Linked DNA regions of Homo sapiens. The protein of the gene in region 2 purifies or fractionates together with the protein of the main gene of each other region. This does not show direct contact. Each region holds a gene or a part of one and is shown on either strand. Other genes may lie near its edges. The genes, in order: NOLC1, NOP56 and NOP2.

Region 1 (3,646 bases), on a different chromosome or scaffold from region 2:
TGATGTGGTAAACCATGGCTGGCATTCTCCTCGATGGCTGCTCTAAAGTTGAAAGAATTGGTGGACTCCTGGCCAGGCACAGTGGCTCACACCTATAATCCCAGCACTTTGGGAGGCTGAGGCGGGCGGATTGCTTGAGGTCAGGAGTTCAAGACCAGCCTGGCCAACATGGCGAAACCCTGTGTCTACTAAAAATATAAAAATTAGCTGGGCATGGTGGTGGGCACCTGTAATCCCAGCTACTCCAGAGGCTGAGGCGGGAGAGTTGCCTGAACCACTGCACACTAGCCTGTGCAACAGAGCCAGAGCCAGACTCCGTCTCCAAAAAAAAAAAAAAAAAAAAAAAAAAAAATGGTGGACTCCTAAGTTCTCTGCTCATAGGAAGGAGGTTTTTCATGGTCCTGACTTGCCCTAATACTCCTTACTCTTTCTTTTTCTTGGGTATTCCAGCTCGAGCAGCACCTAAAATAGCCAATGGTAAAGCAGCCAGTAGCAGCAGTAGCAGCAGCAGCAGCAGTAGCAGTGATGACTCAGAGGAGGAGAAGGCAGCAGCCACCCCCAAGAAGGTCTGGACCATAACTTCTGTCAGGGCAGAGGTGACCAGGGTGTGATGTGTGTGTGTCTTCCTTCCCTGGCAGGATTGGTTGGGTCAGCATTTTCCTGTGGTAATCAATTTTCTTTCTAATGCAGACTGTACCTAAAAAGCAAGTTGTGGCCAAGGCCCCAGTGAAAGCAGCTACCACCCCTACCCGGAAGAGTTCTAGCAGTGAGGATTCCTCCAGTGACGAGGAAGAGGAGCAAAAAAAACCCATGAAAAATAAACCAGGTGACTGGACATGGGGAGCGAAGCTGTGTGACTGTGGTCAGGGCCCAGCTGCAGTAACCACATGGACCTCTCCATAGAGGTGCATGAGCGTCCTCATGACATGACAGCTAGCTTCTCCGAGCACTAGTGATCCAGGAAAGCAAGGAGAAATCTCCAGTGCCTTGTGTAACCTAGACTCAGAGGTGACACCATGTTCTGTTAGAACTGAGTCATTGATTCTGGCCCATACTCAAGTGAAGGGGAATTAAGCTTCATTTCTACAAGAAAGTAGTATCAAAAAAAGTTGTAGACATATCCTAAAACCATCACACTATCCTTTTTAAACAGGTCCCTACAGTTCAGTCCCCCCGCCTTCTGCTCCCCCACCAAAGAAGTCTCTGGGAACCCAGCCTCCCAAGAAGGCTGTGGAGAAGCAGCAGCCTGTGGAAAGCAGTGAAGACAGCAGTGATGAGTCTGGTGAGTCAGAGGGATGCAGCCTCCCCTCAGCGTGGGTCTGGAGGAGGGGATGAGGAATAAGGGAGAGAGAAAGCCTTCCATCCTTCGGTTGCTTTTTGCTTAAAGCAAGACAGAGCTAAGGCTCTGTGCGTGTCTTTGCATTCTTTTTATTGCTGTCCTGGTTGGGTTGGGACTCTGGACCCAGCATAATGCTACAGGTTCTCCTCAGATTCAAGTTCTGAAGAAGAGAAGAAACCCCCAACTAAGGCAGTAGTCTCTAAAGCAACCACTAAACCACCTCCAGCAAAGAAAGCAGCAGAGAGCTCTTCAGACAGCTCAGGTAAGGCATATGGAGGCCCTCAGTTCAGTGAGATGCTCTCAGGCAGCTGCTAAGGGCTCCCCTGAATCCAATTTGGGGAGCTGTTGATTCCATCCCTTCTGTGTCTAGACTCTGACAGCTCTGAGGATGATGAAGCTCCTTCTAAGCCAGCTGGTACCACCAAGAATTCTTCAAATAAGCCAGCTGTCACCACCAAGTCACCTGCAGTGAAGCCAGCTGCAGCCCCCAAGCAACCTGTGGGCGGTGGCCAGAAGCTTCTGACGAGAAAGGCTGACAGCAGCTCCAGTGAGGAAGAGAGCAGCTCCAGTGAGGAGGAGAAGACAAAGAAGATGGTGGCCACCACTAAGCCCAAGGCGACTGCCAAAGCAGCTCTATCTCTGCCTGCCAAGCAGGCTCCTCAGGGTAGTAGGGACAGCAGCTCTGATTCAGACAGCTCCAGCAGTGAGGAGGAGGAAGAGAAGACATCTAAGTCTGCAGTTAAGAAGAAGCCACAGAAGGTAGCAGGAGGTGCAGCCCCTTCCAAGCCAGCCTCTGCAAAGAAAGGAAAGGCTGAGAGCAGCAACAGTTCTTCTTCTGATGACTCCAGTGAGGAAGAGGAAGAGAAGCTCAAGGGCAAGGGCTCTCCAAGACCACAAGCCCCCAAGGCCAATGGCACCTCTGCACTGACTGCCCAGAATGGAAAAGCAGCTAAGAACAGTGAGGAGGAGGAAGAAGAAAAGAAAAAGGCGGCAGTGGTAGTTTCCAAATCAGGTCTGTACCCAATGAACATGCCCTCTGGGTTTTGTCCCCCCAAATCAGGATGGGATATACTCTTTGAGAGTAGGGTAGTGAGAGGAGGCCCACCACTGGGCTTCCAGTTGTGGAAACTGGGAGGAAGAACAGGAAACTGGTTACCTTTTTTTTTTTTTATTAGAGTCTCACTGTGTCACCCAGACCAGGGTGCAATGGCATGATCACGGCTTGTGCAGCCTTAACCTCATGGACTCAGGTGATCTTTCCACCCCAGCCTCCTGAGTAGCCGGGACTACAAGCATGCACCACCATGTCTGGCTCATTTTTTTAACTTTTTATAGAGACAGAATCTCACTATATTGCCCAGGCTGATCTGAATTTCCTGGGCTCAAGCGATCCTCCTACCTTGGACTCCCAAAATGCTGGGGTTACAGTTGTGAGCCACTGTACTCGGCCTGAGTCTGGCTTTTTGTTTTGTAGGTTCATTAAAGAAGCGGAAGCAGAATGAGGCTGCCAAGGAGGCAGAGACTCCTCAGGCCAAGAAGATAAAGCTTCAGACCCCTAACACATTTCCAAAAAGGAAGAAAGTAAGTTGTCTCACTTTCTTCTCAGGAGCCAGCTCTTTAAAAGTAGAAAAATCTAGGATCATCTTGACAGCTCTGCCTGGCGTGACCTGGTACATGTGCCCATGTGTATCACTCAGGAGAACTGTTACATGACCACTCTGTCTTTAATTTCCTACTTCATTCTTCTGTAGGGAGAAAAAAGGGCATCATCCCCATTCCGAAGGGTCAGGGAGGAGGAAATTGAGGTGGATTCACGAGTTGCGGACAACTCCTTTGATGCCAAGGTGAGAGAGAGATCTGTGCCATTCTTGGGAGGGAGGATGGGTAGTGTCAGAGAGGACAATTCTTGGTTCAGGTTGGTGGGAATCTTCTCTGGGTTCAGGTTTCCTTGAGCAGGGAGTAGAAAGAATAAAGTGACAGGGCTCCAGCATGGTCCTCCTCTGTGTTAATCTCCCTCTCTACTTACCAGCGAGGTGCAGCCGGAGACTGGGGAGAGCGAGCCAATCAGGTTTTGAAGTTCACCAAAGGCAAGTCCTTTCGGCATGAGAAAACCAAGAAGAAGCGGGGCAGCTACCGGGGAGGCTCAATCTCTGTCCAGGTCAATTCTATTAAGTTTGACAGCGAGTGACCTGAGGCCATCTTCGGTGAAGCAAGGGTGATGATCGGAGACTACTTACTTTCTCCAGTGGACCTGGGAACCCTCAGGTCTCTAGGTGAGGGTCTTGATGAGGACAGAAGTTTAGAGTA
Region 2 (3,408 bases):
GAGCTTCTCCAGTCGTGTGGTGTCTTTATCTGAATACCGCCAGAGCCTACACACTTACCTGCGCTCCAAGATGAGCCAAGTAGCCCCCAGCCTGTCAGCCCTAATTGGGGAAGCGGTGCGTCACAGGGGACTCAAAAATGGGAGAATAAGGACTGTTGCCATGTGCACCTGCACTGCTGTATTTCGTGACCCACCATGTCTTCCCTAGTTGTGCTTGATGGGGAGGTGGGGAGCAGGGCTGTCGTGCAACTGGGCAGGTCAGCAGTTCATTTCTCTGACTGCTTCCTTGACTCTCTCTCCAGGTAGGTGCACGTCTCATCGCACATGCTGGCAGCCTCACCAACCTGGCCAAGTATCCAGCATCCACAGTGCAGATCCTTGGGGCTGAAAAGGCCCTGTTCAGGTACCAGTGAGGGCACCTGCCCACAATCAGGTGCCACTTCTGGTGCCCACTGCTTGTTGGGGGATCACGGTGATGGCTGACCAGGGCTCCCTGACCTATACAGGCCTCTGCTATGGGGGTGATGGCCAGTCCTGGTGTCTGAGTGATTCCCAGGGCCCAGCAAAGGGACCAAGTTTCCAGGTCAGCGACATTGGATGCCTTCCCTCTGCCTCTGGGAGCTATGGGTTGGCATGCATTGGGGTAGAGATCCAATCTGGCCTGAGGCTCACTCAGGACTTCGGGGTGAGAGGAGGGGAGGAGCTGAGCTGCCTTGGCTAATGGGGTTGAAATTTCTGATCTTAAACTCTCCACTGAATATTCTCTCAGAGCCCTGAAGACAAGGGGTAACACTCCAAAATATGGACTCATTTTCCACTCCACCTTCATTGGCCGAGCAGCTGCCAAGAACAAAGGCCGCATCTCCCGATACCTGGCAAACAAATGCAGTATTGCCTCACGAATCGATTGCTTCTCTGGTATGGGTGGGGGGGCGTTGGCAGGTGTGAGAAGGGGCTGGGTGGCTGGGTGGGGAGGCTTGCAACCATAGCTTCCACAATGATGGCAATATTTTTCGTCAACAGCAGTTCACCTAGTGAGTGTTGAGACTCTGGGTCTGAGTGAAGCTGAGGGTAGAGGGAACACAGGGTTGGGGTAGTTTCTCTCTTTGGGCTGACAGGCTTTGTCACCCACACACATCCAGAGGTGCCCACGAGTGTATTCGGGGAGAAGCTTCGAGAACAAGTTGAAGAGCGACTGTCCTTCTATGAGACTGGAGAGATACCACGAAAGAATCTGGATGTCATGAAGGAAGCAATGGTTCAGGTCAGTTGGGCTTTGCTGGGTGTGGAGTGGCATAGCTAGCTGTTGGAGGTGATGAACTGTCTGAGCCTGACCTTGTAGAATGGAGGCAAAAAAACTGATTTAATGAGCCTGATCCAATAAAGCCAGAAAGGAGTCCTCAGAGCACCAGAAGTCTTCAGGCCCTTTTAGCACTTTTCTTTGACCAGGCAGAGGAAGCGGCTGCTGAGATTACTAGGAAGCTGGAGAAACAGGAGAAGAAACGCTTAAAGAAGGAAAAGAAACGGCTGGCTGCACTTGCCCTCGCGTCTTCAGAAAACAGCAGTAGTACTCCAGAGGAGTGTGAGGTCAGTAGGCAGCACGGCCCTGGCAGAGATCCTAGGTTGTAGGATTTTCAACAGCAGAACAAAGGATATGCTGCATCAAGCTGTGGTCTTGAGTCCAGGCTTTTGGACTGAAACAAGGACCTGAAACATCTAAAACTACCTCTTGATTCTATAGGAAGGAGATAGGTGCTGAACTTGCTCAAGAGCCCAGAGAGCTGGTTGTAGCTCACACCCGTTCCCTGGGCATGTGTGTTCTGTCCTCGGCTGCCTCCCAGGAGTCCTCAACCTGGGGTAGTGTAAATTCCTGCTCTGCTTATTATCAGACGTGTGTCCGGAGGTGGTCGTGTTTCACAGTGGGGATGGGGGCAGGGAGGTCCCCAATGTGCTAAGCTACAATCATTCTCCCTGAGATTTTCATTTAGCACCCAGTTTCTTAAACAGTGTTTCAGGGCCCTGTCTGGAACTTGGCATGATGGTTCTGTTGCGACCAGCATGGTGGGTGTTTTTTAGGTTTTTTTTTTTAATGGGCTGAGGTAATTTCTCATGACATGTTTTCCTTCTAATTTGGGACAGCCTTTGGGGTGGATTTCTAAAGTTATACCCACACAATTAAACTATCCCAGAAACACTGGGCAATGTTAACGACACGCGTTCCCCTGCCTTGGCTACTTAATTGCTGAAGATGTAATGAGCACTGTTCTCACAGCCTGTTCCCCTGTCCTTCCCTTTAGGAGATGAGTGAAAAACCCAAAAAGAAGAAAAAGCAAAAGCCCCAGGAGGTTCCTCAGGAGAATGGAATGGAAGACCCATCTATCTCTTTCTCCAAACCCAAGAAAAAGAAATCTTTTTCCAAGGAGGAGTTGATGAGTAGCGATCTTGAAGAGACCGCTGGCAGCACCAGTATTCCCAAGAGGAAGAAGTCTACACCCAAGGAGGAAACAGTTAATGACCCTGAGGAGGCAGGCCACAGAAGTGGCTCCAAGAAAAAGAGGAAATTCTCCAAAGAGGAGCCGGTCAGCAGTGGGCCTGAAGAGGCGGTTGGCAAGAGCAGCTCCAAGAAGAAGAAAAAGTTCCATAAAGCATCCCAGGAAGATTAGAATGCAAATGGACATTCTCTGGGAGGTGGGGCATACCATAGCCCAAGGTGACATTTCCCACCCTGTGCCGTGTTCCCCAATAAAAACAAATTCACAAGAGTTGGTTCATGTTCTTTATTGAACACCTTACATGGGTATGGACAGGGCCTATGGGTGGGGCAAGGCAGCAATGACAGCCTCAGTGAAGTCATGGCAAGTAGCATAGCCACCCATGTCAGAGGTTCGAACCTGTGGGGGAGAATCATCATCATCCATGTGGCCTGGGCTCCATCCTAACAATCCCCATCACCACCCAACAGTCTGTCCCCTAAGGAAGCCGGCCCAAGGACAACCTAGGCTCTACCCAGCAAGGTGACCATGGTCCACTGCTTAGAGGCACAAGGTCTCTTCCCTGGTACACTGCACTGAAGGGTATGGGGAGTGTGGTCCTTGCAAGGTTGGAAGAAATAAAGGGCTCTAGCTCCCTTTAGTCTGCAGGTGACCGATGACAGACTTGATGAAGTCGGTTGTGGTGCTGTAGCCGCCCATGTCTCGAGTCCGCACCTACAGCCACCACCGGCAACAGCCGTGGGGAGGGAGAAAAGAGAGCCCATGAAGGGAGGTAGGGCAATGTGATTGAGGAAATGGAAGCCAAGAATGCGTGACAGCCAGAAAAAAGGCAATGCACAGGAATGGAAGGAGGAGCCAGGATGGGAAGCACATGGACCTGCCACTCCTCTTAAGCCACTATTAGCTGTGCTGCAGC
Region 3 (3,646 bases), on a different chromosome or scaffold from region 2:
AAATTAGCTGGGTGTGGTGGCGTACGCCTGTAGTCCCAGCTTCTCAGGATGCTGAAGCGGGAAGATGACTGGAGCTTGGGAGGTTGAGGCTGCAGTGAGCTGTGATCTTACCACTGCACTCCAGCTTGGGTGACAGAGTGAGACTGTCTCAAAAAAAAAAAAAAAAAATAACTGCTTCCTTTTGACATAGTAATTCCCTATTAAGGAAGATGATCCAAAATGTCAGCAAATAGTTCTTTACTGAGGTGCAGGAAGTTATTATACAATTAGTGTGTGGATGTATTATTAGAATCGTATAGAATAAAAAGAGAAGGTCCCCATGTGCACCCCCTTCCTACATCCCCTTGTATCTACAGGGTCATTATTAGGTTTGCAGGCACCATGTGGATCATAATGCCAAAAACTCAGGAAACTTCCAAAATACACAATATGCTTAAGTAAGTTATGGTTCATGCATATGATGCAGTTACACTGGTCATTATGTCTATGAAAATGCCTGTGATGTAACTGAAGTCTAAAAAGCAAGAAACAAACTTGAAAATGGATTATGTGAAAAATACAGAGTAAGTAAAAAAAAAAAAAAAACGACAAAATGGGCCAGGCACGGTGGCTCACACCTGTAATCCCAGCACTTTGGGAGGCCGAGGTGGGCGGATCACCTGAGGTCAGGAGTTCAAAACCAGCTTGGCCATCATGGTGAAACCCCATCTCTGCTAAAAATACAAAAAATTAGCTGGGCATGGTGGTGCGCGCCTATAATCCCAGCTACTTGGGAGGCTGAGGCAGGAGAATCATTTGAACCTGGGAGGCGGAGGTTGCAGTGAGCCAAGACGCGCCATTGCACTCCAGCCTGGGGGACAAGAGCGAGACTTCTCTCAAAAAAAATATGGCAGAATGGTAGTCAAGGGCCATTTTTGTCCTTCTTTATACATCCAGGTATTTTTCAAGTTTTTTTTTTTTCTTAATGGAAAAGTGAAAAACATAATAGTAGAAAGAAAAATGTAATGAACCCTTTAATTTATTACTTAGGTTTTTTTTTTTTTTTTTTGAGATGAAGTCTTTCTCTGTTGCCCAGGCTGGAGTGCAGTGGCTCGGTCTTGGCTCACTGCAACCTCCACCTCCCGGGTTCAAGCAATTCTCCTGCCTCAGCTTCCCAAGTAGCTGGGATTTACAGGTGTGTGCCACCATGCCCTCATTACTTAGTTTCAACAGTGAGCAATGCTGCGCCCATCTTATTTTCATTTCTTTGCTCCTCTATTTCCTTCTGAGAGCAAGTGTTGGATTTTTATTTAGCGAAAAAATAAGATATAGAGATAGAACTGCTACAAGGGCTGATGGAAGGGCAGGCCTGTATTAATAGCCCTTGTCTCTCTTCAGTTGCTGCCCATTGAAAGAGCTGCTCGGAAGCAGAAGGCCCGGGAAGCTGCTGCTGGGTGAGTTTTGGAAGCTATTGGGATGGAGCATAGGAAGCCACTGGGGTGGGGAAGCTGTGAGGAAGGAGGAGGTATCTGTTTTGGTCTGTGAATCACTCTGTTCCTGGACCTGTTTCTAGGATCCAGTGGAGTGAAGAGGAGACCGAGGACGAGGAGGAAGAGAAAGAAGTGACCCCTGAGTCAGGCCCCCCAAAGGTGGAAGAGGCAGATGGGGGCCTGCAGATCAATGTGGATGAGGAACCATTTGTGCTGCCCCCTGCTGGGGAGATGGAGCAGGATATCCTTGCAGGGCAGAGTGAAGAGTTAGGAGGAAGGTGGTTGGGAGAGGGATTTCCAGGCCTTAGGACATCATGACACAGTTCCTTAACAGGCCCACATGCCCAGGCTCCAGACCTGCAACGAGTTCACAAGCGGATCCAGGATATTGTGGGAATTCTGCGTGATTTTGGGGCTCAGCGGGAGGAAGGGCGGTCTCGTTCTGAATACCTGAACCGGCTCAAGAAGGATCTGGCCATTTACTACTCCTATGGAGACTTCCTGCTTGGCAAGCTCATGGACCTCTTCCCTCTGTCTGAGGTACTGGATTGCCAGAATGCCTCTTTTGCTTTTCTTTTCTCGCCTCCTTACGCTGTGTAAGGAAGATGTTCGGCCCCCTTGCTCCCCTCTTCTGACTGAGCTCCTTAGCCAGCCTCACTTATTCCCTGCTGTCTTGCCCCGCAGCTGGTGGAGTTCTTAGAAGCTAATGAGGTGCCTCGGCCCGTCACCCTCCGGACCAATACCTTGAAAACCCGACGCCGAGACCTTGCACAGGTGAGGGGTGGCCTTTGAGGCTCACTCATCTCAGAAGGGAAGTGACTTCTGCCAACTCCAGAGATTCCTCTGTGCTACCCTGACTGGGTGGGGCCTTAGGACCTAAGCATGATCCTGGGGGGGCAAACCCAGAGGCCTGATGTCTCTGGCAGGATAGGATCTGGGGGCCTAGGACCTCTGTGGAATGGGAAGTTCATACTCTGCTCCCTGTGACTAGGATGATGAGACTTCAGGATGAGCGTGCTGCCCCCAAGGAAATTGGAGGGAGATCATTGAGGAGCTGGGGAAATATGATTCCTGACTGCACAAAAAAGACACATATGCACAGTCAATATTTTAAACTCATTTCCAAGGGTTCAGGGGCCCCAGGTTAAAGACCCCTGTTGTAAAGTCAGTTGTTGGGTTATATGTGTTGTATATTTCCTGGTGTGAAGAAAACCTAATAATGTAATGTGGTATAACCAATGTCATTAAATTTTTAGTATAGTGGAGGGGCTCAGCCTCTTAGAAAATCAGATGCCACTTCTAGGAAATAAAGTAACAGGAGGTGGCATCCTGCTCCATTGGGATGAAGTTCAGATCTTGAGTTAGGAGCCTGAGGTTAAGAAAAAAGGGCACCATAGGATGGAGTGGGAGAGAGAAACTGCTCAATGACTCCATGATGACTGTGTTTGGAGTAAGCACTATAGGAGTTGTGGGGTATGGGCCATGTTTTTATGAAGCATGTGTTTAATGTCTTCATCTGTCTTCTGGGTAGAGTAGCCTATGAGGTTATTAAAATCTTCATCCCTACCGGGCGCGGTGACTCAACGCCTGTAATCCCAGCACTTTGGGAGGCCGAGGCGGGCAGATCACCTGAGGTCAGGAGTTAGAGACCAGCCTGGCCAACATGGTGAAACCCCATCCTATGAAAAATACAAAAATTAGCCAGGCATGGTGGTACATGCCCGTTGTCCCAGCTACTCAGGAGGCTGAGGCACGAGAGAATCGCTTGAATCTGGGAGGTGGAGGTTGCTGTGAGCCGAGATTGCGCCACCTCACTCTAGCCTGGGCAACAGAGTGAGACTCCATCTCAAAAAAAAAAAAAAAAAATCTTCATCCCTTTTCAGGCTCTAATCAATCGTGGGGTTAACCTGGATCCCCTGGGCAAGTGGTCAAAGACTGGACTAGTGGTGTATGATTCTTCTGTGCCCATTGGTAAGTCTCCCCCACCCAAGAGCCCTTCTACCTCTGTCCCTGTCCCTACCGCATGTCACAGGGTGGTCCTTCTCCACAGGTGCTACCCCCGAGTACCTGGCTGGGCACTACATGCTGCAGGGAGCCTCCAGCATGTTGCCCGTCATGGCCTTGGCACCCCAGGAACATGAGCGGATCCTGGACATGTGTTGTGCCCCTGGAGGAAA

The links.
Region 1: the proteins of NOP56 (region 2) and NOLC1 purify together in Homo sapiens (affinity purification with mass spectrometry; 6 studies listed by BioGRID and IntAct, with this or other methods). This does not show direct contact.
Region 3: the proteins of NOP56 (region 2) and NOP2 fractionate together in Homo sapiens (co-fractionation; 3 studies listed by BioGRID and IntAct, with this or other methods). This does not show direct contact.

Annotation. Positions count from the first base shown.
Region 1 is NC_000010.11:102,158,743-102,162,388, forward strand, and holds part of NOLC1 (nucleolar and coiled-body phosphoprotein 1), read left to right. Parts: intron 1-450; coding exon 451-566; coding exon of another isoform or gene 567-596; intron 597-690; coding exon 691-826; intron 827-1,153; coding exon 1,154-1,282; intron 1,283-1,490; coding exon 1,491-1,601; intron 1,602-1,709; coding exon 1,710-2,351; intron 2,352-2,813; coding exon 2,814-2,920; intron 2,921-3,090; coding exon 3,091-3,183; intron 3,184-3,368; coding exon 3,369-3,527; 3' UTR 3,528-3,646. UniProt on the Homo sapiens protein: Nucleolar protein that acts as a regulator of RNA polymerase I by connecting RNA polymerase I with enzymes responsible for ribosomal processing and modification.
Region 2 is NC_000020.11:2,655,632-2,659,039, forward strand, and holds the end of NOP56 (nucleolar protein 56), read left to right. Parts: coding exon 1-115; intron 116-302; coding exon 303-403; exon of another isoform or gene 404-583; intron 584-769; coding exon 770-918; intron 919-992; exon of another isoform or gene 993-1,063; intron 1,064-1,142; coding exon 1,143-1,264; intron 1,265-1,307; exon of another isoform or gene 1,308-1,379; intron 1,380-1,449; coding exon 1,450-1,587; intron 1,588-1,741; exon of another isoform or gene 1,742-1,857; intron 1,858-2,297; coding exon 2,298-2,663; 3' UTR 2,664-2,762; downstream 2,763-3,408. Other genes in the region: IDH3B (isocitrate dehydrogenase [NAD] subunit beta, mitochondrial isoform e precursor), read right to left, coding at 2,878-2,891, 3,128-3,206. UniProt on the Homo sapiens protein: Involved in the early to middle stages of 60S ribosomal subunit biogenesis. Required for the biogenesis of box C/D snoRNAs such U3, U8 and U14 snoRNAs. Part of the small subunit (SSU) processome, first precursor of the small eukaryotic ribosomal subunit.
Region 3 is NC_000012.12:6,561,678-6,565,323, reverse strand, and holds part of NOP2 (28S rRNA (cytosine(4447)-C(5))-methyltransferase), read left to right. Parts: intron 1-1,075; coding exon of another isoform or gene 1,076-1,174; intron 1,175-1,377; coding exon 1,378-1,433; intron 1,434-1,552; coding exon 1,553-1,710; intron 1,711-1,809; coding exon 1,810-2,009; intron 2,010-2,153; coding exon 2,154-2,243; intron 2,244-3,352; coding exon 3,353-3,440; intron 3,441-3,519; coding exon 3,520-3,646. UniProt on the Homo sapiens protein: S-adenosyl-L-methionine-dependent methyltransferase that specifically methylates the C(5) position of cytosine 4447 in 28S rRNA. Required for efficient rRNA processing and 60S ribosomal subunit biogenesis.